Regions from separate parts of the Homo sapiens genome. Here regions 2, 3, 4, 5, 6 and 7 are each linked to region 1. Evidence: fine-mapped expression QTL. A gene starts in region 1. Each other region holds a variant in brackets. All regions are shown on one strand. Distances are between the middles of the regions. Region 1 holds the start of SNTG2 (syntrophin gamma 2). Region 2 overlaps LINC01115 (long intergenic non-protein coding RNA 1115). Region 3 overlaps SNTG2 (syntrophin gamma 2). Region 4 overlaps SNTG2 (syntrophin gamma 2). Region 5 overlaps SNTG2 (syntrophin gamma 2). Region 6 overlaps SNTG2 (syntrophin gamma 2). Region 7 overlaps LOC105373480 (a long non-coding RNA gene).

Evidence for each region. PIP is the estimated chance that this variant, and not a neighbour inherited with it, causes the effect. A credible set is the group of variants that fine-mapping cannot tell apart.
Region 2: its variant is the best candidate, but not a certain one, in a credible set for the expression of SNTG2 in nucleus accumbens (GTEx, PIP 0.82).
Region 3: its variant is the best candidate, but not a certain one, in a credible set for the expression of SNTG2 in whole blood (TOPMed, PIP 0.85).
Region 4: its variant is the best candidate, but not a certain one, in a credible set for the expression of SNTG2 in whole blood (TOPMed, PIP 0.88).
Region 5: its variant is the best candidate, but not a certain one, in a credible set for the expression of SNTG2 in visceral fat (GTEx, PIP 0.90).
Region 6: its variant is the best candidate, but not a certain one, in a credible set for the expression of SNTG2 in prefrontal cortex (CommonMind, PIP 0.69).
Region 7: its variant is the best candidate, but not a certain one, in a credible set for the expression of SNTG2 in tibial nerve (GTEx, PIP 0.72).

The regions. Positions count from the first base shown.
Region 1 is chr2:949,106-953,172 of GRCh38, forward strand. It overlaps SNTG2 (syntrophin gamma 2), which reads left to right and starts at 1,744. Exons shown (of 17, transcript NM_018968.4): 1 at 1,744-1,963. The coding sequence starts at 1,892. SNTG2-AS1 (SNTG2 antisense RNA 1) reads right to left here and starts at 2,287. Exons shown (of 3, transcript NR_136151.1): 1 at 2,180-2,287; 2 at 806-1,281; 3 at 529-696. RefSeq lists a silencer at 1,653-1,782.
Region 2 is chr2:859,708-863,774 of GRCh38, forward strand. All of the region lies in intron 1 of LINC01115 (long intergenic non-protein coding RNA 1115), which reads right to left. Among named protein-coding and RNA genes, the nearest start is that of LINC01115, 6.7 kb to the right of the region's middle. The variant C/T (reference allele first, on the strand shown) is at 2,227.
Region 3 is chr2:1,122,245-1,126,311 of GRCh38, forward strand. The region is part of intron 4 of SNTG2 (syntrophin gamma 2); the gene reads left to right. Among named protein-coding and RNA genes, the nearest start is that of SNTG2-AS1, 170 kb to the left of the region's middle. The variant G/A (reference allele first, on the strand shown) is at 1,699.
Region 4 is chr2:982,631-986,697 of GRCh38, forward strand. All of the region lies in intron 1 of SNTG2 (syntrophin gamma 2), which reads left to right. Among named protein-coding and RNA genes, the nearest start is that of SNTG2-AS1, 33 kb to the left of the region's middle. The variant T/C (reference allele first, on the strand shown) is at 1,658.
Region 5 is chr2:1,050,877-1,054,943 of GRCh38, forward strand. All of the region lies in intron 1 of SNTG2 (syntrophin gamma 2), which reads left to right. Among named protein-coding and RNA genes, the nearest start is that of SNTG2-AS1, 100 kb to the left of the region's middle. The variant C/A (reference allele first, on the strand shown) is at 2,122.
Region 6 is chr2:1,211,142-1,215,208 of GRCh38, forward strand. All of the region lies in intron 9 of SNTG2 (syntrophin gamma 2), which reads left to right. Among named protein-coding and RNA genes, the nearest start is that of TPO, 200 kb to the right of the region's middle. The variant A/G (reference allele first, on the strand shown) is at 2,018.
Region 7 is chr2:770,169-774,235 of GRCh38, forward strand. The region is part of intron 3 of LOC105373480 (a long non-coding RNA gene); the gene reads left to right. Among named protein-coding and RNA genes, the nearest start is that of TMEM18, 95 kb to the left of the region's middle. The variant C/T (reference allele first, on the strand shown) is at 1,602.

The DNA.
Region 1 (4,067 bases):
AAAAACAAAAATATATGTGTCTATTCATTTAACGATAAAATTTTAACAAAAACTTGTCTCTCAAAGTCAACATTTATGCATGCAACACGCTGTTTTTCCTTCTTCAGGCCCTGGAATAGAATGTCCCTTTGCAAGGTAATGAGACAATATCTTTGTGCTATTTGTAGACATTTAATTTCTCAGAGATTATATGCACGCTCTTTTAAAAATGCAATTTAAAGGCAAACAATAATCTCTTGTACTTTTTCTTATTCTAGGTTTTGCTACAAATAAAAAGTAATACAATATTTTTTACCAATTCACCCAAGAAGCATATTTTGTAACAGCCACTGTGCCACGTATAAAAAGACCTGGTTTTTGCTATTCAAGAGCTTGTCCTCTGGTTAAACTGAGTGCTAAGAAGTGCTGGCAGACTGCCGTGAAGGTGAAACAGGAATACAGAGAATAGAGAAATGGGGAAGGGCGTCTGTGTTCGAAACCCAGGTCTGCTCAGGGGTCAAGCAAGTCGGAGTCAGAAAAAGTAAAGTGTTTAACATCGAGTTTTCAATATTTATTTGTTTACAATGCGTCACATTCTGCTCCTAGATAGGGTTAACCTCTGAAGACCTCAGATTTCGCTGCTTTTCCTTGCCGTGGAGAGGGAATAAAACGGGCATCGTGGCCTCCGCGATGGGCGCTCGTGCCTGGGTCGAAGGACTGGGGGGCGGAGGATTTGGAAAGGGAGAAAAATACGGGCTGGCTTCTTTTTAAAAAATGTGGGTAGCCTTGCCTGCCCCCGCCGCACTGGAATTTATCCTAAACTTACTTTCATTTACATTAAAACAAGACGATTTGAGTCTACCAAACCCAATACTGCATCTGTGAGGCTCCTTTTGGCACAAACCTGAATGAACAGCGGGAAACGCCGTCTCCCCTGGCGTCTGAGATCTGGGGTCCCCTCCCCACCTGGTCTCCTCGCTCCCGCCCCAGCCCCGTGCGCCCCAGGAGGGCACCGCCGAGCGCCGGGTCCCCGCAGGGTTCGGGAGACTCCGCGGACCGGAGGAGGGATAGGACCCCCGAGCTTTGGGGGCGGGAAGGGAGGGTGGAAGGAGGAGGGGAGCGGGGTTGGGGAAAGTTGGAGCTTCGGTATCTTTTCTCCGGGCCAGGCCGTCCTCGGGGCCCTGCGCTGCGTCTCCAAGTGCTGGGAAGACTCCGCGGGGAAAGGTCTGAGGACGCGGCCGGCTGGCACAGGTGTGGCGGCTTCAGAGGGCCGGGGAGAACCCATGGCTTCGAGGCTGTGGACTAGAAATGTCCCTGATTAGAAGCTGAGAACCTTTGGCCAGGGAGGTGGGGCGGCGGGGAGGGGTCGTCAAGCCGGTCCAGAGCGCGCCCACCTGCGCCACAAGGGAGAAGAGGTGCCCCCCGCCCCCCTCCGCCCACCGCCGCCACGATGCGCCGCGGACCTCGGCGACCCAGCCCGGGTAGAAGCGCGCGCTCCCCTCCTCCAGCCTCGTGCGCCGGCCCCTGCCCCGCCAGCCCCGCTATGGTCCCCCATCCACCCCCGCGGGAGCGCCCCTGTCCCCCCATCCTGCACTTCCCCCAGAGTCGCGCGCCAGTTTCCCGCCCCGTGGAAGCGCCCCTCTCCCGACTTCGGCTGATCCCCGCTCGCCGCCCTCCCCGCGGGTGCGCGCCCGGCCCCTCCCTCGCCCGGGGCGGGTCTGCGTGGGCGGTGCTCCGGGTCGGCGGGCGGAGCTCCGGTTCCCCAGCCCTGCGCCCCGGTGGAGCCCGAGCCGGAGCCGGCAGAGGGGCGCGGGCGCGGACGCGGCGCCTGGCGGGGCCCTGGGAGGCTCGGACGGGGTCCTGGCGTTGAGCTCGGCCGGCCCGGAGCGCGGACCCAGCCGCAGGGGCGGCGATGGGCACCGAGGGACCCCCGCCCCCGGCCGCCTCCCGCGGACGCCAGGGCTGCCTGCTGGTACCTGCGCGGGTGAGTGCGGCCCCTCAGCGCCCCTTCACCTCCGGCCCCCCTTCCCTCTCCTTCGCGCCCTTCTCCCCCCGCCCCTCCTCCCTCCACGCCCCCTCGCTCCCCGCGACCCCTTCCCTGTCTCCGGGGACGGCTGGCCGGAGGGTGGGCGCCGGAGCCCCGGGACGCAGTGGGCACCCGCCCCCTGGCCGCTCTGCTCCCTCCAGCCCAGTGTCTTACTGGAAACTTGCAGGCTTTGCTCCTCCAGCGTCTTCCAAGGTTTGGTTTTGAGGCGCCCGGGCTTCCCTTTACTGCGTGGGAAGTAGTGCTTTCCAGAATTTGGGATTTGAGATTGGCCCGGCATTGCTTCCCAGGAGCGGCTCTTTCGGGCCCAGGCGGTGGCTCGGACCGGAGCGTCCCCCCTGCAGCCTTCGGGCGCCCAGGCCAGGTCTGAGTTGGCCAGTTTGAGCCCAGCCAGGTGCATGGCGCGGCCTCGGCAGGTGCTGGGGGCTCTAGGCCATTCGGGGAACCGCTGGGACGCCAACTGGGTAATACGGATTTCTTTTTTGAAGTCTATTCTGGTTCCCACCCTAAATAACTCCCTCTTCACCTTCTTATTTTTAAATAACTAAACTATTGATTGACAGAAAACAGAAATGTTGGCCCAAAGAAAAACGAAAAGTTCTTGGAAACCTTCAAGTTGCCACCCACAGCACAGCCTCGAGTTGTGAAAACAGTTTAAGGGAGCACGTGGCCACCCCAGCCCTAGGAGGCTGCCGAGAAGCGCGGCTGTTAATGAAAATGCATTGACAACCACTCCTTTAGGATTCCTTCCCCAGGAGCTCCCAGTCCCAGGAGCGACCAGGAATACAGTTAGCCCTCCCTTATAGGACAGTGGAGAGACGGTTCAGAAGGCCACGGGTTGAGGGCTGCTACAAATTCCTATCGTCATAATAATGATTCTAAACTAGGACTGTGGTCGTCGCTACTGTGATGTTAAAAAGATTTCTATGTAGAGACAGGTGCATCTTCATTCAAGTAGCACCTTTCTGGGCTTTTACTACAAAATATGAAAATTAAATTTCATGTAAAATGTGGGTGTTCGTTTCTTGAAGTACTTTGTAATATGAATAGCTATCCCACTGTTGCCCATGGTAATCAAACCCGAGAAAATATGCGGGGATTACCTGGAAATAAACCGCAGTAAAAACTGCAGGCGCTGTGGAATCACAGGCTTTCCGTCTGGTCACTGCCTTCAGCTTTATAATGATGCCCTCCCACGGTTAGGGATTGTGCATTTTTCTCCAGACATTCGAGCAAAGCAATTCTTGCTTTTAATCATTGTAATTATAGCGGAAGCGTTGAAGTGGATTCATCATACTTCATGATTGACCCACTTGATGAGTTATTGGCAATAACGTCAACAAATAAAGCAACTGCGCGTATTCTAGTAAATGCTCTCCTTTGCGCTCAGTATTAATTAAGGTGCTAAATTTGATGTTTTCCAGTCAAGAGTGGCCTCTGCTCACCTGTTTGCTACAAGATGTGATTGGCGCTTTCTTTCTAATAAGGACCTTGATTATTTGAAACAGCCTGTCTGAATTGTATTGAAAGAAACTTTTTTTTTAGCGTTGGAGGCCAAGTATTACAATAAGATGGAGCATTTTAAGAGCAAGACTCCTAACTTTGCAGTCATAAGTAATTAGGTATGTGCTAAGCCTACCTTAGACACCAGTGCATGGTCATGTTAGCTCAGATTCTTATGTATTTAAAACGAATCTGTTAAGTATTGGTGTTGGCAGGTTTGTCTTGAAAACATGAATGTTCTTAGTATACAATGTCATCCTTACTTAATGGCAGAATTATTTTCTTACCATAACTGCACAATATTATTCAACTTGTGTAATTATTTAATCATTTCAGTTAAGAGAACTTGGTGCTTTTAACTAGAAAAAGATGAAAGTCTTTTCTAAATCTTATATTTCTAGTTATATTTTTTCTATCTGAAGTCAAAACTATACACATTCTTTATCATGACTGCTTGTTTGAATCATGGAATTTGGCCACGTTTGAAGGTCTCCTGTTCGGTAACAGACCTGTTTTGTTTCCCCTTTCAAGTGCCTGTTCC
Region 2 (4,067 bases), 89 kb before region 1:
AGCCTGTCATCTCCCACTTAAATATCTTCCCGTGAAACAGACAGAAGCATTTGAAAAGAGATCCTTCCACTGCCACTGTGAGTTGGATCGAATTCCCATACATTTGGGAGAGAAAAAAAAACTCAATTTTATCTGGATTTAAAAATCCAACGCTCACAGCACAGGCACAGTCAACATAACATCTTTAAGCGCACCGTCTACACTGGCTGTGATTTCACTGCCCCTGTGGCCTACACCTGAGTCAGGCTGTTTATTCCCTCACCGGGAGCCGGACGGACTGTGCTGCCTCCAGCTGCTCTGGCTTAGAAATGTGCCAACAAGAGGAAAAATCGCCCAAAACGCCACCTTTAAGGGATCCTGAGAGAGCCATGGACCTTCATGAAGAAACACTTTTCCCCAAAACAATAAAAAGGTATTGACCCATTGCTTTTTGTCATGAATGTTCTTTCAAAATGCTGCAGGAATGAAGCTCTGAGTAACGGAATCCTGATATCAATTCTAACAGGAATAGCTAAATAGTTGAGGGTTTTCAAAATCAATGGGAAAAATTTATAAGATGAGAATCTTGTTACAAAGAAAAAAAAATAGGGATCTAAATGTTGAGAAACATTGGAAGGTCTCGCAGTCCAAAACCTCGACATCAGAACTGACTGAACATTTGTACAAAGTGAAGTTCCAGGAGCTGCCCCTTTAGAAAGGCGTCCTCCCTCCCGGAGGAGCTGTCTCCACACTGCACCCTAATGCCGGCCTTCCCCAGCGCCTGTCTCTGCCAGAAGCCTCTCCTTCACAGCACTGCACCTTTGCAGCCTGCACCCACCCTCTCCCCTGGACCCCCACCCACACCCTCCACCCTCTCCCCTCCATGGCACTGGACCGTTCCTCTGGCCCTCAAGGTCCCCTGCTCACCTGCCCCCTCCACACCAGCCCCCGGCTCTGGGGCAGGAGCACGATTGTTCATTGATGTGTCTGGGACCACTGACCACATCTGACGCACAGTGCCACCAGGCGTCGCCAAGCATCCCCAAGCACCTGCGGAGTGCTCATCCCTTAGGGACTTGTTTCCTTACCTGTTACAGGAGACCCAAGAAACTTCAACAGTCCTGAGATTCCATTAGAAACAACATTTCCCTAAAAGGGGGCACGTGGGGGTTCTGAGAGTCCCATCATCAGTTACTGGAGCCCCCACCTTATTCCTCAGCCCCCCACCTTATTCCTCAGCCCCCACCTTATTCCTCAGCCCCCACCTTATTCCTCAGCCCCCACCTTATTCCTCAGCCCCCACCTTATTCCTCAGCCCCCCACCTTATTCCTCAGCCCCCCCATTCCTCAGCCCCCACCTTATTCCTCAGCCCCCCCATTCCTCAGCCCCCACCTTATTCCTCAGCCCCCACCTTATTCCTCAGCCCCCCCCTTATTCCTCAGCCCCCCCCTTATTCCTCAGCCCCCACCTTATTCCTCAGCCCCCACCTTATTCCTCAGCCCCCACCTTATTCCTCAGCCCCCACCTTATTCCTCAGCCCCCACCTTATTCCTCAGCCCCCCACCTTATTCCTCAGGGCAGAAATGAAAACATGGTTTTCCATTTCCCTTTTTGTTACTCAGGTCACATAACAATCACTTATATGGCAAAATTTCAGATGCAATTAGAGAGTTTTCAATACTTCCCCCATTGAATTTCAGATTGGTGAGGTTTTTGTTCAAATTTTCCCTCAAAATTAGTTGTTTAAAGATTTGCGCTAGCTTGGTACACTCACATGTCCAAACATTTACAGGAATGTCTGTGCATTCCTGCGCTCTCTTGAGAGAGAAGCAACGAAGAACCTGAACGATAGAAATTAACATGCACATGTAAAAGAAACCGGCATCTTTATGCCACGCTCAGAACGCTGGAGGAGCCTGGATTGTCACCTGTAACTCAACAAACCTCACTCCTTCCTGGGAAAAGCGTCTCCAAATGGCACCAGCATGGGACCAATCGCTCAGGTGCAAAAAAAAAAAAAAAAAAAAAAATACGACTTTCCCTGCACACCCCACCTGCAGGTGCCATTGACTGCTTCATTCAGACAATCCCCCGATCCAGCCCGCCTCATGGCTCCACCAGCCCAGGGCACCCTCCTCACAGCTACCTGGACCAGGTGGAGCCTCCCTGAGGGTCTCTGTTTCCTACACACACGCGCGCAGGAACCCAGGTGAGTGAACGTTAAGTGTGGTTTGAATTGTGCCACT[C/T]GAGTGCTCAAGCCCCTCCCAGAGTTCTCCGAGACATCAGCCCCTTCACACCCCCCACGCCTCCCCCTTCTCGGCTTCCACTCCTCGCAGTGGCGGCTGCTGAACCTCCCTTCTCCCACCCCCGGGCGTGTTCTTCCCACTGTTACTGAGGGGCCAGCTCCCTGGATTCTCAGGTTTCCTCTCCTCCAACATCCCAAGCACTGAATGGGAGTTTGAGACACTTAAATGCTCTCCAAGCCAGGCATGCAGGCAGCTGTGTGTCTCACCCACACGCTGACATAACTGATGAGGGCCAGGACATCAGCCGAGACAGCGGGTGCACGGAAACCCACGAGAAAATGCTGGGCTTTCCTCCAAGTGTGAAACCCTGGATGCGTTCTGAAATCCCCAAGGATGCTGAGAGCCACAGACGTGTAGACGGAAAGAAATCAAACCATTCGCGTTGCTGATGGTGGGAGGAAGTGCGCTGCAGCCCGCACCTGCCTCCCCTGATGCCGATAGCAGGACCGGCACCCTCGTTCTCTGCAGTCACACTCCCCATGTGAAAGCGTCTCCTGTGTTCTTTCTTCCAGGATGCCATTTTCAGGCCGGCTCCTGCACAGGCAGTGCGGTGTGGTCACTGTGCTCCACTGATCCACTGAACGGGGTTTTATAAAAAGGGCGTGCGACTCAGGTGGGCAATGACCTGGCATCCCAGCCTCCAGGAAGAGCCCTTCTCCGTGTTTCAACACCCGAGCGATACAGGGATGGAGCGATGCCACTCTCTTTGGATGTTCTCCCCATGTTTCTTCTGCTGTAGAGTTTGTCACAAAGTCCCCAGTACCCTTTGGGAATAAGGTAACTCTGCCGTCTGCACCCCATCTATCCCTCAAAGCTTCAGCCAAAGGGAACATCCTCTGAGGAGTCTCCCCCAACGTCCACTCCCAGGGGGACAGCGGCCTCGAGCATCCAGCCTGCAAAGGCGTCCCCACCCCACCACAGCCACTGGTGGCCAAGGATGCTTCAGTGGTGATGAGTGCCTGGGGAGACAGGGTCTCAGTAAACACCTGTTGAATATAACTCAACACAGTGCAGGTGCAGAGGCCCACACCTCCCCAGCCCTCCACCTCCCTCCCTCCCTCGATTCCTTCCTTCCTCCCTCCACCTTCTCTTTCCTTCCTGCCACTTGTCCCTTTGCTTCCTTTCTCCTCTCCTACGGACACCAGGACCCAGTTGTTCAACAGCAGAAGGGAACTCCACCTTCCGACTTTTCCACACAACACAGCTCCTGCATCTCAGAGCTCCAACTCCATCAAAGGCCTCAAGAAAGGAGCTCGGGGTGGCCAGGGTGCTCCTGCTCCAGGCATGCCAGATGGTTTGCCAACAAACAGGATCTTTCAAACTTTCAAACCCCACTCCCTCATCTTAGAAATGACTGCACTTCACCTGGGCTACCTGCCCTGTTTCAGGGCAGTTGCAGAGCTGGTCACCAGGTCATGAACCTGAGCTTTGCCTTCATTTAACCTCTGGGAGCATCAGGTCCCTTTACTGCAAATGTGGATAAGAGCCATTCCTACTCAGGTCAGGGTTAATCATCACAAAACCCTTTGGAAATTTCCCATTGTTCAAGAGAAATTGGACCAAGCCAGTCAAGTGCACTAGGCTACACGAGACCACTAAGTGGACCAGGCTTATGCGAGATCACTGCAGCAGAGGAGAGAGGTGGATCAGGCTGTGTGAGACCACTGCAGTGGAGAGGTGGATCAGGCTGTGTGAGACCACTGCAGTGGAGAAGAGAGGTGGATCAGGCTGTGTGAGACCACTGCAGCAGAGGAGAGGTGGATTAGGCTATGGGAGACCTC
Region 3 (4,067 bases), 170 kb after region 1:
TATACATTTTTAAAAGCCAGCATCACCGTGACACCTAAGCTGAACAAAGATGTCACTAACAATGAAAACTACAGGCCAATTTTTCTGATGAACAAATGACAGAAACATTCTCATAATGACTTTAGCAAGCCAAGTCCAACAGCACATTAGAAAGATTACATGTCATGACCAAGTAGGATTCATCCATGGCATGTGAGGCCAGTTTAACATTTTCAGATTAACCAATGTGACACATCACATTAACAGACTGATGCAGAAAAATCATTTGACAAAGCCCAATATCTATGATAAAAAATCTCACCAGTTCAGGTATAGACAGCATGTTCACAATAAAGCTATTTATGAAAAATTCCTAGCTAGCATTATAATCAATATGAACAAACGCTTTAACATTAAGATCCTCTGCAAGACAAGGATGCCCAGTCTTGCCGATTTTATTCAACATGACACTGGAAGTACTTGCAATTAGCAATCAGACAAAAAAAAAAAAAAAAAAAAGGCATCCGAATAAGAAAGGAAGAAGTAAAGTTATCTATTTGCAGATGGCATGATTCTATTTGTAAAAACCCCAAAGATTCCACAGAAAAACTGTTAGAACCAATAATTCAGTAAAGTTTCAGGATATGAAATTCATATGCAAAAATTAATAGCATTGTCATACACAAATAATAGCTGAAAAAGAAATCAAAACAATCCCATTTATTAATGCAAGCATCAGAAAAAAATAAAATATTTAGCAATAAGTATAACCAAGGAGATAAAAGACCTATACAATGAAAACTGTAAAATATTGATGAAGACAATTCAAAACATTGAAGAAGATACCAATAAATGGAAAGATATTTTGGGCTCATGTCTGGGCTCATCATAATTAATATTGCTAAAATATCTATGAGCCAAAGTTATATATAGATTCAGTGTAATCCTTATCAAAATCCCAATGACATTTTTCACAGAAACAGAAAAAACAATTCAAATATTCATATGGAATCACAAAAGACCCTGAATGGCCAAACAGTTCTAAGAAAAAAAAAGTTGGAGGCATCACACTTTCTGATTTAGATTATATTACTATAGTAATCAAAACAGTATGGTGTTGGTATAAAAAACAGACACCTACACCAGTGGAGCAGAATAGAAAGCCCAGAAGTAAAACTAAACGTACATGCTCAACTAATTTTGGACTAAGGGCATCAGGAGGATACAATGGAGAATGTATAGTCTTTTCAATAAATGTTGCTGGGAAAACTGGACTTCCACATGTGAAAGAGTGAAATTGGACTCTTGTCTTACACCGTATAGGAAACCTACCAAAAATGGATGAAAGTCTTAACTGTAAGATCAGAAGCCATAAAACTCCTAGAAGAGAACGTTGGAGAAGAGCTCGTTGATATTGGCCTTGGCAATAATTTCTTGGCTGTCACACCACAACCTCAGACTACAAAAGCACAAATAGATAAATTGGACTACATCAAACTGAAGTTCCTGCACAGCAAACAAGACCAGCAGCCTATGGATTGGGAAAGTATATTTGCAAAACATGTATCTGATAAGAGGTTAATATTCAAAATTTATGAAGAATTCATTCAGGTTAATAGAACAAGTAAACCAATTAAAAATGGGCAAGGCAGATACAGAAAGACAAGCGCCACATGCTCTCACTTATATGTGGAATCTAAAACAATTGAACTCATGGAA[G/A]CAGAGAGTAGAATGATGGTCACAGAAGCTGGGGATTGGAGAATGGGGAGATGACGGTCAGAGGGCACAGACTCTCAGTTGTGCAGGAAGAATTTTTTTTAAGTTCTATTGCACAGTGTGGCAAAGATAGCTTTTTAATAGATTATTGTACATTTCAGAATTGCTAAGAAAATTATCTTGTTTTCATTATAAAAACATGTGAAGTATTTGAGGTCATAGATATGTTAACCAGCTTGCTTTCATTATCCCATATTGCATTCATAAATCATAACATTATTTTTACCCTGTAAGTTTATATGATTATAAATTGTCAATTACAATTTGAAAATATATAGGGTGGAATATTACTCAGTCTTTTTTTAATTTTTCTCAGACAGAGGCTTGCTTTGTTGCCCAGGCTGGAGTGCAGTGGTGCGATCTCAGCTCACTACAAGCTCTGCTTCCCAGGTTCATGCCATTCTCCTGCCTCAGCCTCCTGAGTAGCTGGGACTACAGGTGCTCGCCACCACGCCCGGCTAATTTTTTTTGTATTTTTAGTAGAGACGGGGTTTCATTGTGTTAACCAGGATGGTCTCGATCTCTTGACCTCATGATCCTCCCACCTTAGCCTCCCAAAATGCTGGGATTACAGGCGTGAGCCACCGCGCCCGGCCTACTCAGTCTTAAAGAAGGAGGAGGTCCTGCCCTTTGTCACAACAGGGTTGAACCTGGAGGACGCTATGCCAGGGGAAACAAGCCAGACATTAAAGGGAAATACCACATGACCTCACTTATGGGTGGAACCTGACGAAAAGGTCAAACACGCAGAGAAGGAGAATAATACAGTGGTCACCAGAAGTGAGGAGATGGTGGTGGGGAGGAATGAGGAGCTGGAGGTCAGAGGATGCAAAGCCGTGCACAAGTAGGCGAGCGAGTTGAGAGGTCCAGTGCTCAGCATGAGGACTGAAGGTCACACAATCATACCGTGTTGGGGATTCCTGCTACATTTTAGCTGCTCTTGACACACACAAAACAAAACAAAACAAAAATATGGGTAATCAGGTGAGATGATGGATATGTTAATTTGCTTCACTATAGTAACCATTTTACTATCTATAACATCTTTTTGTATGCCTTAGACATACTGTTATTATTAATAGTAACAAAAATCTACTGGACACCCACAGGACATTCACAATTTGAATCAACACCAGCATTAACCTTCAAATTATGTTAAATAAAACTTTTTATTTAAAAGTCTTCATTTTAATACGCTAAATATTCAGTTACTATAAATAGCTACTAAAGTCTGGCTGCTCGAGAGATTTCTTGCATAGCATATTTATTTCATAATATTAAAACTTCATTTCTTCATTTATGAACTTTATTATCAAAGTAGAGATTTTTTGTCCTTTTTTAAATCAAGAGTGTGTAACAGGAAGCTGAGTTTTCCTCTCCTCTGTCCCTTCCTCCTGTCCTCCTCTTGCTTCTTCCCTCTCCCTCCCTTCCTTTGCCTTCAAAGCACCCATGCATTTGTGCATATTTTTATTTGTATCCTTAGGTTTGAAGTTTGCTGCTTTCTTCTAATATCTTGGTGTTAGTCATTCAAAACCCTTAATAACTACCATACCTCCAAAACAGAATTGTTTTCTAAGATGAGTTATTGTAAATATAAATCACAGAAGGAAAGCATACTTTAGATGGACATGCTACTTTTCTTAAAGATTTACAATTAAAGATTTACAGTAAATACATGTCAGCTGTTTTAATTTTGATGTGTGTTTTGCTTAATTTATTCTCAATTGAGAAACTTTTTCTCTCTTGGGGCAAAAAGTAACACATTAGATCAGTTAGTAAATTTCAGAACAGGATATGATGATAGAATGAATGACAGAAGTAGACAGTAGGGTGTGGTGTACAGGGATAGGGTGAAGCTGTGTTTTTTTTAATTAACACATAATTGTACATATTTATGGGGTACATAATGATGCTTCAATACATACAATTTATAGTGCTCAGATCAGGATAATTATCATATTCATCATCTCCAACATTTATTATTTCTTTGTGTTGGGAATATTCAATATGCTCTCTTCTAGCCATTTGAAAATAAACAATATATTATTGCTAACTATCATTATTCTACAGTGCTATAGAACACTAGAAGTATTCCTCCTATCTAGCTGTAACTGTGTATCCTTAAAAAAATCTCTCCACATCTCTCTTACCTCCTCCCCTTCCCAACATCTAGTAACCTCTATTCTACTCCTTAGTTCTATGAGACCAGCTTCCGCATATGAGTGAGAACATGCAGTGTTTAACTTCCTGGGCCTGGCTGACTTCACTTAAAGTAATGTCCTACAGGTTCACCCACTCTGCCACGAATGGGA
Region 4 (4,067 bases), 34 kb after region 1:
AAAGTCAGCGTGCATGCAGTGGGTTTCTGAAAGAAGCAGCGTGGACAGGACTCCCGTGGGCAGGGCCCCTGTCACTGTGCCTGGGCAGCTATCTCTTCTCTTGTGCTCACTCAGCACCTCGGGTTAGTATTGACCGTGGCCCTCATTCAACACTGATTGTGGACTTGGTCACTTTGTAACTGAGCCTCGCCTAGAATGGAAGTCCCAAGGTGCAGAGACTGTGCCTGGAGGAAACTGTGAGACACTAAAACCCCATCCCAAGGAGGGGGAATCTGTGCAACAAATGGTCAGGATGAAGCAGAGGCTCTCTTCCATAGAAGCTGCGGAGGTAGTGGTCAGGATGAAGCAGAAGCTGCAGGGGTGGTGGTCAGGATGAAGAAGCTGCAGAGGTGATGTCAGGATGAAGAAGCTGCAGAGGTGGTGTCAGGATGAAGAAGTTGCAGAGGTGGAGGTTGGGATGAAGCAGAGGCTCTCTTCTGTAGAAGTTGTGGAAGTGGTGGTCAGGATGAAGAAGCTGCGGAGGTGGAGGTCGTGATGAAGCAGAGGCTTTTTAGCAGAAGCTGCAGAGGTGGTGGTCAGGATGCAGAAGCTGCAGAGGTGGAGGTTGGGATGAAGAAGTTGCAGAGGTGGAGGTTGGGATGAAGCAGAGGCTCTCTTCCATAGAAGCTGCGGAGGTGGTGGTCAGGATGAAGAAGCTGCAGAGGTGGAAGTCGGGATGAAGAAGTTGCAGAGGTGGAGGTCGGGATGAAGCAGAGGCTCTTTAGCAGAAGCTGCAGAGGTGGTGGTCAGGCTGCCCCATCTATCATCACGCTCTGATTTAATCAGGTGCTGCCTCCCACCCTTCCTGCCCAACTTGGTGCCTCCTGCATGACTTTCAGGGGGGCTGCGAAGCAGGTGTCCCAGATCTAACCCTCCGAAATAGTCACTCTCCGCCCTGGGGCCAGAATCGTGTTTGCAGCCTCCAGCCCACCTGCCCTTCTCCTGTTCTGCACTCAGTGGCTCCCGTTGCCCCAGGATGAACTCTGAGCTCCTAAGTGTACGCTGACCTTCAGTCTTGATTCATGTCCCTGGTTGGATTTAAAGTGTTGTAGGTACCAGTTTTCTTAGAAATTGGTCCAGAATATATTGAGTAGAGGGAGATTAAAAGATCAAGACATACTTCTCACTTGTGGGCACCCTCCACCATGGAGCCTGGAGAATCACTGAGGAATGGGAGGAGGGATGAGGGTGTTCAGAGGGCAGAGGTGGGTGCAGAACTCACCTGGCCATTGCCACTTGGGAGAAGTCGGGCTCCACACAGCATGGCCTCTGAGATGTCTGTGTCCCTGTGTCCCTGAGGGTCAGTGTCAAGAGGAGGCCAGACTGTGTCTGAAAGAGCTGTGGGCACACCCCTTTGTTGAAGGGCTGCAGAGAGGGGCGGTGGCACCAAGCTGCCCCATTGCTGAGGGGCCAGGTGGCAGGAGCTCTGTGAGCCACACATCCCTCGGCTGCTTGGCATTGCAGAGGTGACGCTATTGAATCACACTTTACCCTGGGGTTCTTGTACAAACCAGATGCACTTTTGGAGAAGAAAAATAAGCCTCACTTATTTCGAACAGCCTTCCCACTTTTACCCAAAAGAAACAAAGCTTTTTTTTTTTTTTTTTAATAGCACACT[T/C]TCATGCAGTTAATTAAGATAAAATGAAAACAAAGGGCAAAATCTCCTCTCTGGTTGGTGATGGAAATGGGAAGTGCGTGTTTCTTCTACCAAGGGAAGGAGGCTCAAATCTTCCAGCATGAGGCTTTTTCATTTCACTCATTTCTCCACGGTCCAAGCAGGAGCTCTGTGCTGTTTGCTGGGTAGAAGATACTCGGTGCTTCCTTGCTCTCTGCTAAATGCCATCTACCCTCTCCCATCCCCTCTCGTCCTCCCTGGTCCCTTTGGTGCACTCTGACTGCTTCTGGTTCCCCACTCTGTGGCCTCACCTGTCTGTCCTGAGCGCCATGAGGTCAGCTGTGGCCCTGCCGTCCTGAAATTGCTCCTTCACTTGGCACATCCTGCCATCATCAGCGGCCTCCATGAGGGCACTGCCTTAGCTCCGTGACTCAGGACAGTGCTAAAGAAGTCAGTGTGTTCTCAGCGGGGAAGACGAGGGTAACAGACGTCCAGGTGCTGCGTCAGCTCCACGGGGAGGGAAGCACCCACTTCTCAGTTCCTGAACCCAGACCTTAGGTCTTCAAGTCTAATGCTTATTTTATTGGGGCACAGTAGAAGTTTTATTATCAATCAGAATTTAACAAGGATTGACATGAACCTATTTGTTTCTTTTACATAGTTTTCTTCAGTAACACTAGAAAAGACAGTTCTAGGCTGCACAATTTGCTGGGGGAGTTTTTCTGTGCAGAAGCATATTATATGTCCATTTTTTTCCCCAAAAACAATCACCTCAATTTGTGAAGACAAAATCCGATCATCAAGTGTTGCCTGAAAAGCAAATATATATCACTCTCATTCTTAGACATAATGTGGCTTCTGCAGACCACACGCCACTCCCTCCTAAAGAAAACAGCACGGACTCCCCTCCAGGAAGAGCTTTTCCTGCTGAATTTATATCGGGTTCCATCAAAGAAAAGCGACGGAAATGCATGTGCCTGCAGCCATTAAACAGAAAGACAAGTTGATTTTTTTTTTTGGCAAATTTAGAAACTGGTGAGAAAACGTTTCATGCTAGAGCAACTTCTGTAATTAAGATATTTTCTTCCTCTAAAATAGAAGGGTTTGTGTGAGCTCAGGGATGTGTCTTTTTTCTTTCCTAGGAAGTGGAAAAACCAGACCCTCAAATTAAGCTGAGGGGCCCTGCTAGGAATAAGAGGGCCTGCAGCTCCCCAGCTCCCCCTCTGCTGGGCCAGGCAGAGACACCCTGGGAGGATCTAATCCTCAAACCAAGGCCATTTTGCTTTTTAACTTTGGGGGATATGCACAGGATAATTTTCAGAGAGAAACAGATGCTGGTAAACTGATATCTCAGGCCTTCAGTCAGAAATCTAGCATTCTCTGTGGTTGATTTTATGGTATTCTTGCCTACACAAGTTGGTAAGTAACCCGTCTTCTGATAGGACCGTCTGAGAGCAGTTTCACCTAAAGGAAGCCGACGCTGGTTGGCTTTTTATCCTAGCTGCTTTCAGTTGGCGTAAATGTTTCTCCTTTATCACGTGAATCCTCTTAACTTTAATTTTATTGCAAGAATGATTAATATTGAGACAGCCAAGTGTTATCACAGTTTCATGGACAAGAAAGAGACAATATGTGGAAGAAAAGTACTGTGTTTGGAGACCCAACCTATTTTTATTTTATTTTTCTGAGAAGCAAAGCTCAGAAAGGAAGAGGGGAGAGGGATTTGTATTTTATTTATTTCTTTTTACTATTTACAGGGAAAAATACATTCCCTGCAAATAATAGAGAGAGAGAGAGAGAGAGAGAGAGAGAGAGAGAGAGAGAGATCAGAGGATTTCCCATGTGCTGAGTATCAATTTTCCTTTCACACAGTCTTGCATGGGGGGCTGGGGAAGCACTGAGCACAGGCAGCTCATTTGGGGACATGGCCGGGATGGCCCCTGTACTCTCATGGCCTGAGCAGAGTTGTGGCCCCTGGGGTGGCCTCCCAGACCTCCTTCTCACACGCTCTACCAGGGTTGTTTGGGATGCAATGACAAAGGTAACTTTACCCTTTAGAGAAGAGAAAATCTCACCTGGAATCAGGTTTCTGTTTTCATTTTTAACATTTGAAAAAATGCCCCTTGACGTGAGTTGAACTAGACTAACAGATAATGCTGATTTACCTAAATAGGACTTCCCATGTAGGAATGGACAGATGTTGTGAATGAGGTTGTCATGGTTAGTTAAAAAGGGAAGATTTCAGATAAGACACATTTGGAACCTTCTGGACAGCTCAGGATCCCCTAAGAAGGATCGGCATACCAGTGGCTGAGCCTGATGCTCACATTGTATTTAATAGCCTCTACCTCCTTAAAGACTATCGGAGATTCTGTGAAATGTCTAGGCAAGATTGCTTTCTTAGCAAGTGGAA
Region 5 (4,067 bases), 100 kb after region 1:
ATTTTGCACATCTTTCATTAGATTTATTTCTAGATATGTTTAATGCTACTGTAAATTGCATGTTTTTATTTCAACTATTTTTTGTTGCTGATATGTTGAGACACTAAAAATATTGACATAATAAACTGATATTTTTATTAATTTCAAAGATTAATTGCTTATCTGTTTTCATATCACATGCGTAGATACTTTTGGATTATCTCCATGCTCAATAATATCATCTATGAAAAATGCTGGTTTTATTTTTTCAATGTTTACACATTTCCTTCCTCCCTCCCTCTCCCCCTTTCTTCCTCCCTCCCTCCTTCCTTTCCTCCCTTCCTCCCTTCCTCCCTTCCTTCCTGTTTGCTTTATGATTGTATTGGCTGGGAGCTGCAGTACCATGCCGTATTGAAGTGGTGCTGTTGAGCACCCTTTGCTCATTCCTTTTCTCAGGAATTTTCAAGCTTTACGCTGAGTATGACATGTGCTGTAAGTCTTTTGTAGACGTCTCTAACCAGTTATGGAAGCTCTCTTATTAAAAGGCTTTAGGTAACAACATTTGTCAACACTTTTTTGAGATTAATCAATGATCATATAAGTTCTTTGCTCATATGGTATGGTTGCCAGCCTGGAGGAAGGCACCTGGTATTCACTCCCCTGTGCAACCCATCTGATTTGTACTCGGGGCAGCTTCTGTTGTCATGGTGTATGGCATATCTGATGATCTGCCATTCCTGATACTGGGCTATAAAGTCTGCAGTTTCTGTGCTGGGGGCAAGCATTTTTCCTCCTGGATCATTCTTTCCAGTATATGCCATGTTGTGAACTATCATTGGAGAGGCCCACGTGGCAAAACACTAAAGCCTCCGGCAGCCACCACAGGAGCGATCTGGAAGCAGATCTGCTGGCCACACCTGAGCCTTCAAAGACGGCAGCACCCCCAGCAGCTGGGCTGCAGTCTCTGCAGGACCCGGAGCCAGAAGCACTCAGCTGGGCTCTCACAGAATCCTGACATTCAGAGGCTGTTGGTTGTTGGATATTTTATTACACAACATTAGAGAACTCTTCCATGTTATGAATTACGCTGATTTTCAAATGGTAAACTACCCTTACATTTTTTATTGTAGTTGCTTTAAAAGTATTTTGCTTTTTATATTTTTTGGATTAGATTTCATAATATTTTATTTAGGATTTTTTTTATTTATATTCATGGGGGTAATTGATAAGTAATTTTACTTTATTATAACCTTCTTGTTAGGTTCTGGTCTGCAGCTTAGGTTGGTTGTATAAATGAGTTTACTGGTAGTCATTGTTTTTCTATTCTGTGGAAAAGTTTGTATAGTATCCATGTTATTTATGAAATATTTAGAGGAATTCACTGGGCCCAGAGCTTACTTTGTGAAATAATTTTAATACTAAGTTCAACTTTTAAGTTACGTACAGGAATATTTATATTTTTATTTAATATTATATCTGTTTTAGCAAATTGCATGTTTTAAAGAGTTCATCCTTTGTACACAAATCACAAACTGTAAGGTAAAACATTCTTGCTATTTTCTTGTGTGCTTTTCATATCTGCGGGACTCATAGTGGCTTCCCCCTTTCCTCATCTGGCTGCTTCTGTGTGTTCTCTCCTTATTTCTCACTTCTTCCAGAGAACTGTTCTTTGGCTTTGTTCATTAGTTGATTTGTCTTCTGTTTCATGTATTTCTGCTCTTATTTCCTTTATTCTCTTTCCTTTTTCTTGCTTTGCTTTTGGAAACTGAAATCAGAGGTCTCTAAAGTGTTTTGAAAGCCACATGGTACCTTAGGATCACTGGCCATGTCGTCCTTTATAGACAATTCTGCCATCCTTTCGTGGAAGCAGGTGAAGGGCCGTGGCTGTGTTCCAATAAAACTTGATTTACAGACACAGGCGGTGGACCTGAATGCTGGGTGGCCTACCCTGGGATGAGGTCGCTGATTTTCACCTTTAGTTTCTGCATGCATTCCAGCTGTAAGTTATTCAGTTGCAGCTGCACTTCACAGGTTTTGAAAGTCGTAAGCTCACAATCTGTTCAAAACACGTTCCAGTTTCCACTGCGAGTCCCCTCCTGGATCTGTGGTGATTTGTGAGTATGTTGCTAAACTTTTCAGGAG[C/A]GGAGATTTTCTGTTATCTTTTTCTGGTAGTTTTCCATTGCCACATATGTGAAAATAACATACTCTGACTTCAGTCCTTTGAGATTTTTGAGGTTTTCTTTATGACCCTGCGTTTTGTCCACGTAGGAAGGAGGGTGTTCTGCTGTTGCTGAGCACAGTGTTCAACAGACATCAGTCAGCTTCCATTCCTTCACTGTGCTTTTCAGATCAGTGCAATGCTGATTTGTTCATGCTTCTAAAATGTAGGTAAGCAGGCTTATTTTTAATTCCTGAGTTTTTCATTATATGCTATGATTCTAGAAATGCATTAAAAGTTTTTTTTATTGAAGATGAAAGTTATTTTGGCAAAAATATCAATTTTACATTACTGAAAACTTTAATAACATATAATTTTGTTGTTTCTTTATTCTTAAAATCTAGCTACTCCAGGAGGATGTGTTCTGGTGTTGACTGTTGATCAGTATCACTCCATCCCCCCCCACCCCCCCAGCCCTTTGCAGCTAAGTTGTGTCTCCTTGATGGCAGATGTCAGTTTCACGGAGACGTAATTGTTTCCAGGAGTATTATTTCTATGCCTTTTTATTGTTTTCCACTTTGGAAACATGAGTTACATGCTAGGTATCCAGGTCGTGTTCATTTGGCATCCATCTCTGTCGTCCTCTCCACATCATCATTTCCCACCTCATTTGTGTGATGCAGTTAGGCCTCCATGTGGTGACTCTGGTTCTTGATTGTTTTCATTTGACTTTATTGCATTTTATTGTGGCATTGATTCTGATTACTTTAACCTGCATTCACCTTCCTTATCCTTTCCTCCATTCTTTTCTGAGCTGATGACTCCCTTTCAGGTAATTCTGTTTCCATGGTCCCTCCTTCTCACCTCCTCTTCTCCCTTCCTCCCTCCCTCCCTTTGTCCCCTCCTCTCCTCCCTCCCGCCCCCCTCTTGCTTCCATATGAGTGGGAGACCTCGTGTTCCCTCCTCCCTCTGCAGGCCCTGTGAGGTGCAGGATTACAGGGATTTAACCTGCATGTCTTGGCCTTGTTGTTTGTGCAGCCCTCTAAGTGCTGCACCAGCATGACAGGCACCACGCCTGCCACCTGCACATGTCTGCTGGGGCACTGCGGACCCGTGTCATTGCCACCCTGATTCAGACGGGCGGACCTGAACCTTTGGTTGTTTCCCGTGGTGCGGCTCGGGGGTGTTCTGCCACCTTGTCAGGTGGTGGAAATTGGCCCTTTCTCCTGCATCCCTAAGCGTCAGACCTCAGCCGTTCCCACCCAAGAGAGGCGGCCCACACCTGGGCTGTGGCTGGAGCATCTTCACGGCACCAGGAGTTCACTCTTCTTCGTGCCAAGGAATTGGTTAATTCTTCTAGGATCTAGCATTTTTAATTATCTAACTCTAATGAGGGGTTTACGTAGAGGGCTTCGGGGATTTTCAGTATGGCTCTCTATTTGACTGAGTTTGAAGGATTCCTGAAAGGAAATCCCAAGCTCCTACTGTGGTTTTGTCACTCTTCCTAGCAGGTTTAGGATGCAGTCCTACATGGCTAGAGATGTTAGAGAAGGTCTCAGTAATATCCCTGTGAACCCCACAGAGCCGCCTTGGTGATTCTGGGACCCCCTGGAGGTGACACATTCCTGAGACACCCCAGGGTACACAGCAATAGCATAATTAAGCCCCATGCTAATGAAGTCTTTTCCCCAGACCTTGGATCAGAATATCACTTGTTAATATTATCTGAAGTTAATGTTGATGTATTTTTGGATTTTCAAAGAGGTACATTTTCAAATGAAAAATCTAAATTGGGAAAATGAAGAAAGTAAAACAGAATAATGTAATTGTAATTAGGGTCTACTATTAAGCATTTGAAATACATGAGATGAAAATTAGCCATTTTAGAAGTTAAAAATATTGCCAGGGTGATGGCTTTTTTTGTTTTGTT
Region 6 (4,067 bases), 260 kb after region 1:
GCTCTAACTGTGAATTCCTTTTAAAGTGTGTGCTTGTGGCTTTCTTACAACATGTTTCTTTGGTTTGGGGTTAATTTGGGAACAAAGTAGAGATCTGGGCATGTATCTCTCTTGACAAAGAGGGAAATAGTGCATGAAATGACATTTGTCTATTAGCGTATTTGAATTAAATGGGTTTTTAGAAAAATAGAGCCACTGAACTTCATTACACACTTCCTAGCCCATCTGCCATTGAATGTGATGAAGATTGGCTGTTCTAGCTTTGGTTTAAGGATGAATTCAGGTCATAAGATGGAAATGTCTCCTACTCTGAGGACAGGATAGGGTCTCTACTTGTATTAGTCCATTTTCATACTACTGTGTAGAAAAACCTGAGACTGGGTAATTTATAAAGAAAAAGAGGTTTAATGGACTCACAGTTCTACATGACTGGGGAGGCCTCACAATCATGTCAGAAGGCAAAGGAGGAGCAAAGGCATGTCTTACATGGCGGCAGGGAAGAGCATGTGTGCAGGGAAACTGCCCTTTATAAAACCATCAGATCTCGTGATTCTTATTCACTACCATGAGAACAGCATGGAAAAAACCCACCCCCATGATTCAATTACCTCCCACCAGGTCCCTCCCATGACACGTGGGAATTATGGGAGCTACAATTCAAGATGAGATTTGGGCAAGAGTACAACCAAACCATATCACTAGTAATTCTTAACTAAATGCAGACTTGATAACCCATTCTGGCAGCTTGAGAACATGTAGAAACACATGTGTTATTCTTGGTGACAAAATATTTTGACCCACTAAGCCATTCATACCACAATCATTGGGATAAATACATGACATCCAGGAGAATGAAATGGAACCCAAGAAGTCAGCCGACTGCCTGAGCCTCAGATTGTTTCTGTTACAAAAGCTATCACACACTGATTTGGTTTGGATCTGTGTCCCCACCCAAACCTCATGTGGAAATGTATTCCCCAGTGTTGGAGGTGGGGCCTGGTGGGATTAGATCATGGGGCAGATTCTCATGAATGGGTTAGCAAAATCTCCCTTGGTGCTGTGCTTCTGACAGTGAGTGGGTTCTCCTGATATCTGGTCATTTAAAACTGTGTGGCACCTCCCCACTCTCTCTCTTTCTCTTGCTCCTGCTCCTACCATGTAAGGTGTCTCGCTCACCTTCTGCCTTCCACCATGATTGGAAGTTTCCTGAGGCTTTCCTAGAAGCAGAAGCTGCCATGCTTCCTATGTAGACTACAGAACTGTGAGCTGGTTAAGCCTCTTTTCTTTATAAATTACCCATTCTCAGGTATTTCTTTACAGCAGTGCAAGAACGGACCAATACACACTGTAACAGCAAACTGAAAGGTTTATAATTTTTCATAAGACAAGAATATTTTGTTTTATAAAGGCAAATATGTCTTACTAGCTTGCTGACTGTTTTATGATTTTTAAGCAAGATTTAGTATGGGCAGGAAAGGGCAAATAATAAAACGCATAAGGGCTTAAGCTATGAATTTTATAAAACCTGTTTGTTCTGAAACATATTTGTGCAAAGTCCCATTTAGAGGCTGAGATGCTGTTCTTAGCTCCACCTTACCTGTAAGCTCCTCAGGTCTCATTTTAAATGGATGAAAAAGAGAAGAGACTTGGGTGTGTTGATCCCAGTGGATGGAGTTCTAAAATTCCTGTGTATCTTCTCCTGAGGGCTCCTCAGTCTAAGGAGGGTAAGGAATAAGTTTAGAAATTGTCAATTCTAAATCAAACAGGTTTTAGAATCTTAAAACAAAAGCTGTAAGCTGTAGCCCAGGAGGAACCTTTAGATATCATATAATGGAAACATAAATAGGATGAAGAGGTTGGAAGCCAGCATCCTGTGGGTGTCCCCTCTGACTCTGTCCTTGTCCAAGTATAGGACCTCAATCTATAACCACTACCTTCTGGGTCCTTTCTAAAAATTGACAAATAATAATCATATATAATTAATGTACAATGTTATGTTTCAATACATGTTTGCATT[A/G]TGGAATAATTAAATCAAGCTACTTGGCATGTCAGTAACATCACATGCTTAGCATTTTTGTAGTGAAAATATTTAAAATCTACTCTTTTAGCAATTTTGAAATATACAATACAGTACTTACTCACTTAACATCATTGATTGGTCCTCAGAAACTGCAACTTGGAGTGAAAAGATGTATAAAGAAACCAATTTTCCCATAGGCTAATAGCTATAAATAAGAGTTAGATTCTTACAGCATATTTTTGGTCACAAAATATCACCAAACTTCTAAATAAAGACCAAAACACTTCAAATATTAAACATTGAAATAAATATGAGCTTTGCATACATTTAAGAAAGATTAATAAAAACAAGTAAGATAATTATTTGCCCAATTATTTCATTCAGGGTTGGGGAGACTGGAGTCTGTGCTGGAAGCTCAGGGCTCAAGCTGGGCAACAGCCCTGGACAGGATGCCATCCCACTGCAGGATGGCTCACACATGCCCACAGCCACTCAGCCTGGGACCATTTGGACACAGCAATTAACCTTACCTGCATGTCTTTGTGGGGAGGAAACCAGAGTGCTTAGAAAAACCCATGCAGACAGACACAGAGCAAACATGCAAACCTCACAAAGATATTGTTTCTTCTGTCACCTGTGCTTTTGGGTCATATTCAAGAAATCATTAACCAAATAAAAGTCGTGGAGCTTTTCCCTATGTTTTCTTTTAGTAGTTTTATAGTTTCAGGTCTTACATTTAACTCCTTAATCCATTTTGATTTTTGCATATGGTGTGAGATAAGCTTCTGGTTTCATTCTCCCACATGTGGATATCCAGTTCTCTGAACACCATATATGGAAGAGACTGTCATTTCCTCATGATATGTTCCTGGCACTTTTGTTGAAATCAATTGACCATAGATCTGTGGGTTTATTTCTGGCTTTTTATTCTGTTCCATTGGCCAATGTACCTGTGTTTATGCTTGTGCCTTGCTGTTTTGATTATTATAGCTTTATAATATGTTTTGAAATCAGGTAGTGTGATGCCTCCATCTTTGCTTTTTATGCTCAAGATAGTTTGGATATTCAGAGTGTTTTATGGTTCCATATACATTTTAGGATTGTGTTTTCTATTTCTTTGAAAAATATCATTGGAATTTGATAGAGACTTCATAGAATTTTGTATATCATTTTAAGTAGTATGGTATCTAAACAACATTAACTCTTCCAATCCATGAATGCAGGATATCTTTCCATTTTTGTGTGTCATCTATAATTTCCTTTATCAATGTATATTTTTCATTGTACAGATCTTTCATCTCTTTCGTTAAATTTACTCCTAGGTATTTTATATTTTTATACTACTGTAAATGGGATTGTTTTATTAATTTCTTTTTTGTATAGTTCATTGTTAGTGAACAAAATACTACTGATTTCTGAGTGTTGTTTTGTATCCTGCAAATTTTCTAAATTCCTTTATTAAGTCTAACAGTTTTTTTGAGTCTTTAGAGTTTTCTATATATAAGCTTATGTCATCAGCAAACAGAGACAATTTCACTTCTTCCTTTTCTATTTAGATGTGTTTTATTTCTTTTTCATAATTGTTCTTGTTAGCACTTCCAGTACTATGTTGTATAGATGTGGTGAGAGTGCACATATTTATCTTGTTCTGGATTTTAAGGGAAAACCTTTCAGCTTTTCATCATTAAGTATGATATTAGACGTGGGCTTGTCACACGTGTTCTTTATTGTGTTGAAGTACATTCCCTTCATACCTAATTTGTTGAGAGCTTTGATGATGAAAGGATAATGAATTTTGTCAAATGTTTTTCTGCATCTATTGCTACAATGTTATGGTTTTTGTCTTTCATTTTGTTAATATGGTGAATTAGATTTATTGATTTTGCATGTGTTGAACCATGCTTGCATCCAAGGCATGAATCCCACTTGATCATGGTGACTGATCTTTTTAATGTGCTATTGAATTCAGGTAACTAGTATTTTGATGAAGATGTTTGCACGTATGTTCATCAAGGATATTGGCCTGTAATTTTTGTTTCTTGTAAGG
Region 7 (4,067 bases), 180 kb before region 1:
TCTGAGTACCTTTTATAAAATAACAAAGAGCACACTTTCTCCCCCACAATATCTAGAGCTCCAGTCTGGAACAGAGGGGCTCCACAGATATCAGATAGGCTAAAGTTGTGAAACTTCCAAAAACTCTTGGGATGATAATTATACTGTTGACCCTTGAATAACTTGGGGCTTAGGGGTGCTGAGCCTTCACACAGTTGAAAATCCACATATAACTTTTTGTTTCCCCAAAATGTAACTATGAATAGCCTACTGTTGACCAAAGTCTTACTGACAACATAAAAAGCTGATGAAGACATATTTTCTATGTTCTATGCATTATCTACTGTATTCTCCCAAAGAAGGAAGGTGGAGAAAAGAAAATGATATTCAGGAAACCATAAGGAAGAGAAAGTACATTCACCATTCATTAAGTGGAGGTAGACCATATAAAGGTCTTCATTCTTGTCTTCCTGTTGAGCAGGCTGAGGAGGAGGGGGGAGAAGAGGGGTCAATGTGGCTGTTTCAGAGGTGGTAGAGCAGGTAGAAACAGGTGTGTAAGGGACCTGCTCAGCATACATCTGTGCTGTGGGAGAGGAGAGGTCAGTATGGCTGATTCAGAGGTGGTGGAGCAGGTAGAAAACAGACATGTAAGGGACCTGCACAGTGTACATCTGTGCTGTGCACAGGCCAACTCCATTCATTCCCTGGAGAACTCAGCTAGCCCCCAAGGCTTCAGTCACATGGTTTTCTAAGATCTAAGATTAAGGTTCAATATTATGTGAGCTTTGGCATCAGGGGAAATCAAGAGGCCCCAAATGACCTTGCCACTGTCCCCTCCACACTCTGCTCCCTTGGGTGAGACCCCATAGACAAATGCCCCCCTCCTCCCAGGGACCAGGCACCAGCTCCACCTGAGCAGAGAGCCTCATTCAGCTCCTGGCCGGCTGGCAAAACTGTTCAAGTCAGTCAATTCCATCATTCTTCAGGAGCCAGGCATTGCCTCCCCGTCTTGTTACTACCAAGCCTGCCTCCCGAGGCCCTGTCTCTTCACACGGCTCCCGAGGCACCCTCAGGTGGTCTGCAGTGCTCCTGCCCAGGGCTGTGATTAATAACCTGCTGTCTGTCCATCTGCCCAGAGCCCAGGGTCCTGTGTTCTGCCCTTCCCAGGACTCCAGGGCGGGACCCATTCTCATCCATGGGAAAAAGAGGTGGGGATTAAATACCCTTTCCAAGAATGGACTCCAAAGTCTATTTCTCATGCATCTCCTGCTGTGCCTATCTATTCAGGGTAGTGTCTTCTCAAATCCACACAGGGCAGCTTCTCCGTGTTGCTCTCTAACATACCGAGGATGGAGCCCAGCTCAGCAGCTGACGCGACACAGACCCTCCATCAACAGTGCATGGGAAAGTTGACCAATGACCTCCTGAGAAGTCAAAGCAGCCCTACACAGGCTGCTCTGAGCATAACGCCCAGCCCGGCTCCACAGCCACACGGGCTCCTGGGTAGACAGGTGACCTGGTGTCAGAGTCACCAGTGAGGGTGAGTGCAGCCAGCCGTGCAAGTGAGCATAACGCCCAGCCCGGCTCCACAGCCACACGGGCTCCTGGGTGGACAGGTGACC[C/T]GGTGTCGGATTCACCAGTGAGGGTGAGTGCAGCCAGCCATGCAAGTGAGCCCACCAGAGCTGCTTCGCTCGGGGTAGGCTGGGGAGATCACCTCTGAGGCCGCAGGGTCAGGGTGGCTTTTCTGGAGACCCAGACCATGAGCCAGCTCAGAGAGGTGCCTGCTGCTCAGCAACTGTCAGGCCTTCAGCATTTAAGGATCTTCACAACGTTGTCTTCCTTGTACACCTGGCATATTCCTAGTTATCCAATATTCATCTTTAAACTGAATTAATTTAACTATTTAATAGTCTCATATGAAATTATCCATGAAAATTGTGGGTCTGCTATTTAGATATTTAATTTAATGGTAGGTCAACACCAATTTGTTTCTGGAAGTCTGACTAGAAAACGAGATGGTGTGTGAAAGTTAAAGAGTGTCTGAGACGGAGGGTAAATTCTGGAATTTCACGTGTTAGGATGTATACACAGAATATATGGAAAATGGCAGGGAAAGAATCATTTGAAGAGAAACCGGCGAGAAATAGCACGTGAATTCGAGGACTCTGCATTTTATCCAAGGCCCTGAGACACGGCCACCAACAACAGGTGAGAAGCAGTTCATGGAACCCTAGAGCATAAACCACCCCATTTCCCAAAGGACAGCAATGCCCTGGACCCGGCACTGAATTAAGAAGAAAAGCAGGAGGGAAGAAAGGCGTAAACGGGACACAGCAAGGAAATTCAGAGCGGGGGCCCAGGAGCTGGGTCTGGACAATGGAGGGTGACCACCCAGGACACCAGCTGGTGCTGTGGGACCGGGTGCTGCCTCAGGTTCCCACCGCAGTGTGGGCCGGCCAAGGCTCCGGGCAGCTAATTTATGCCATTTGACTTCATTAACCCGTGTGGGGGCAAATATCTCTAAAAGCTGAATGGACACTTTAGGAGTGACATTCCCTAAAACCCCACTCTTTGTATATCACGGTCCTTAAGAGAAGAGGGGCTGATGGTGTGGGATCTGTGAGACCGTGGTCAGTCGCTGCATTTCAGGCCTCCAACGCTGCTTACTTTGATCTAAAATATAACCAGAAGAACCACAGGTTTTTAATTCCAGAAGAGGTTGAATTCCTGACTCTGTTATTACCGTCTGTGATCCTGGGCAGAGTACATCTTCTGTTTGAGTTTTATCAGCCCAAAAAGGGCACCGTGTTACTTCAGAGATGGTGGTAAGAGCACTAAATGAGTGAACGGTGTCAACATCTGAGAAAGATGTGGCCCGTCCCAGGTCAACCACGCATGGTGATTAGAACTGTGTTAACCATCAGCTCAGGCCCTATGTGGAATTTCCTTCACTTATGAAAAAATGTAGAAAAAAATCATTTTCTTAAATGGTGAATGCATCTGAGTACCTTGGAGGAAACTGCTGAGGGAGCATCCAAGTGAAAATCCCCGGCTGCAGCACACACGTGCTCACACAGTCAGTGCACAAACAGGCAGCTTCTGTGCTCCCGCACTGTTGGGTTAAAGACAACAATGTCATCCTCTTAATTAGACAAATGTGTGGCTTCCAAGGGCTTCTGTCCGAGGAGACTGTGTGCAGCCTTGGATGTTCCTGCTGCCTGTGCTCATTGTCACTCTGAGAGTTTCGTTGGGGTTTGTCCACACCACACTTGCATGAAAGGATGGGTCTTGGGGTGTCTGGCTCACCTCTTATCTCCAGCACTTTAGTTAATAATTGTCTTTTGAAGGAAGAAACACATGTGAAGAGGGCCAACTGCTGGTGGAGCGTGAGGCGTGTACCTGGTGTGAACACGGGCTCCCATGCCCACAGCCTGGTGCCAGTGCCCCCCCAGCAGGTACCCTGTCCCCCAGGCCTGGCGCCCCCACCTAGCAGGCATCCTCTCCCCCAGTCTGGTGCCCCCACCCAGCAGACACACTGGCTCCCATCCTGTTTCCCCCCAGCAGGCACCCTGTGACCCTCAGAATGGAACCCCACCCAGCAGGCACTGTCCCCCAGCCTGATGCCCCACCCAGCAGACACGCCGTCCCCCAGCCTGCCCCCCAAGCAGGAACACTCTCTGCCAGCTTGAAGCCCCACCCAGCAGACACACTGTCCCACAGTCTGGTGCCCCCACCCAGCAGGCACGCTGTCCCCCAGCCTGGTGCCCCACCCAGCAGACACATTGTCCCCCAGCCTGGTGCCCCCACCCAGCAGGCACCCTGTGACCCCCAGCCTGGCACCCAGCAGACACACTGTCCCCCAGGCTGCCCCCCGAGCAGGAACACTGTCCCCCAGCTTGAAGCCCCACCCAGCAGACACACTGTCCCCCAGTCTGGTGCCCCCACCCAGCAGACACACTGGCCCCCATCCTGCCTCCCCACAGCAGGCACCCTGTGACCCCTAGAATGGAGCCCCACCCAGCAGACACATTGTCCCCCAGCCTGGCTCACCCACCCAGCAGGCACCGTGTGACCCCCAGCCTGGTGCA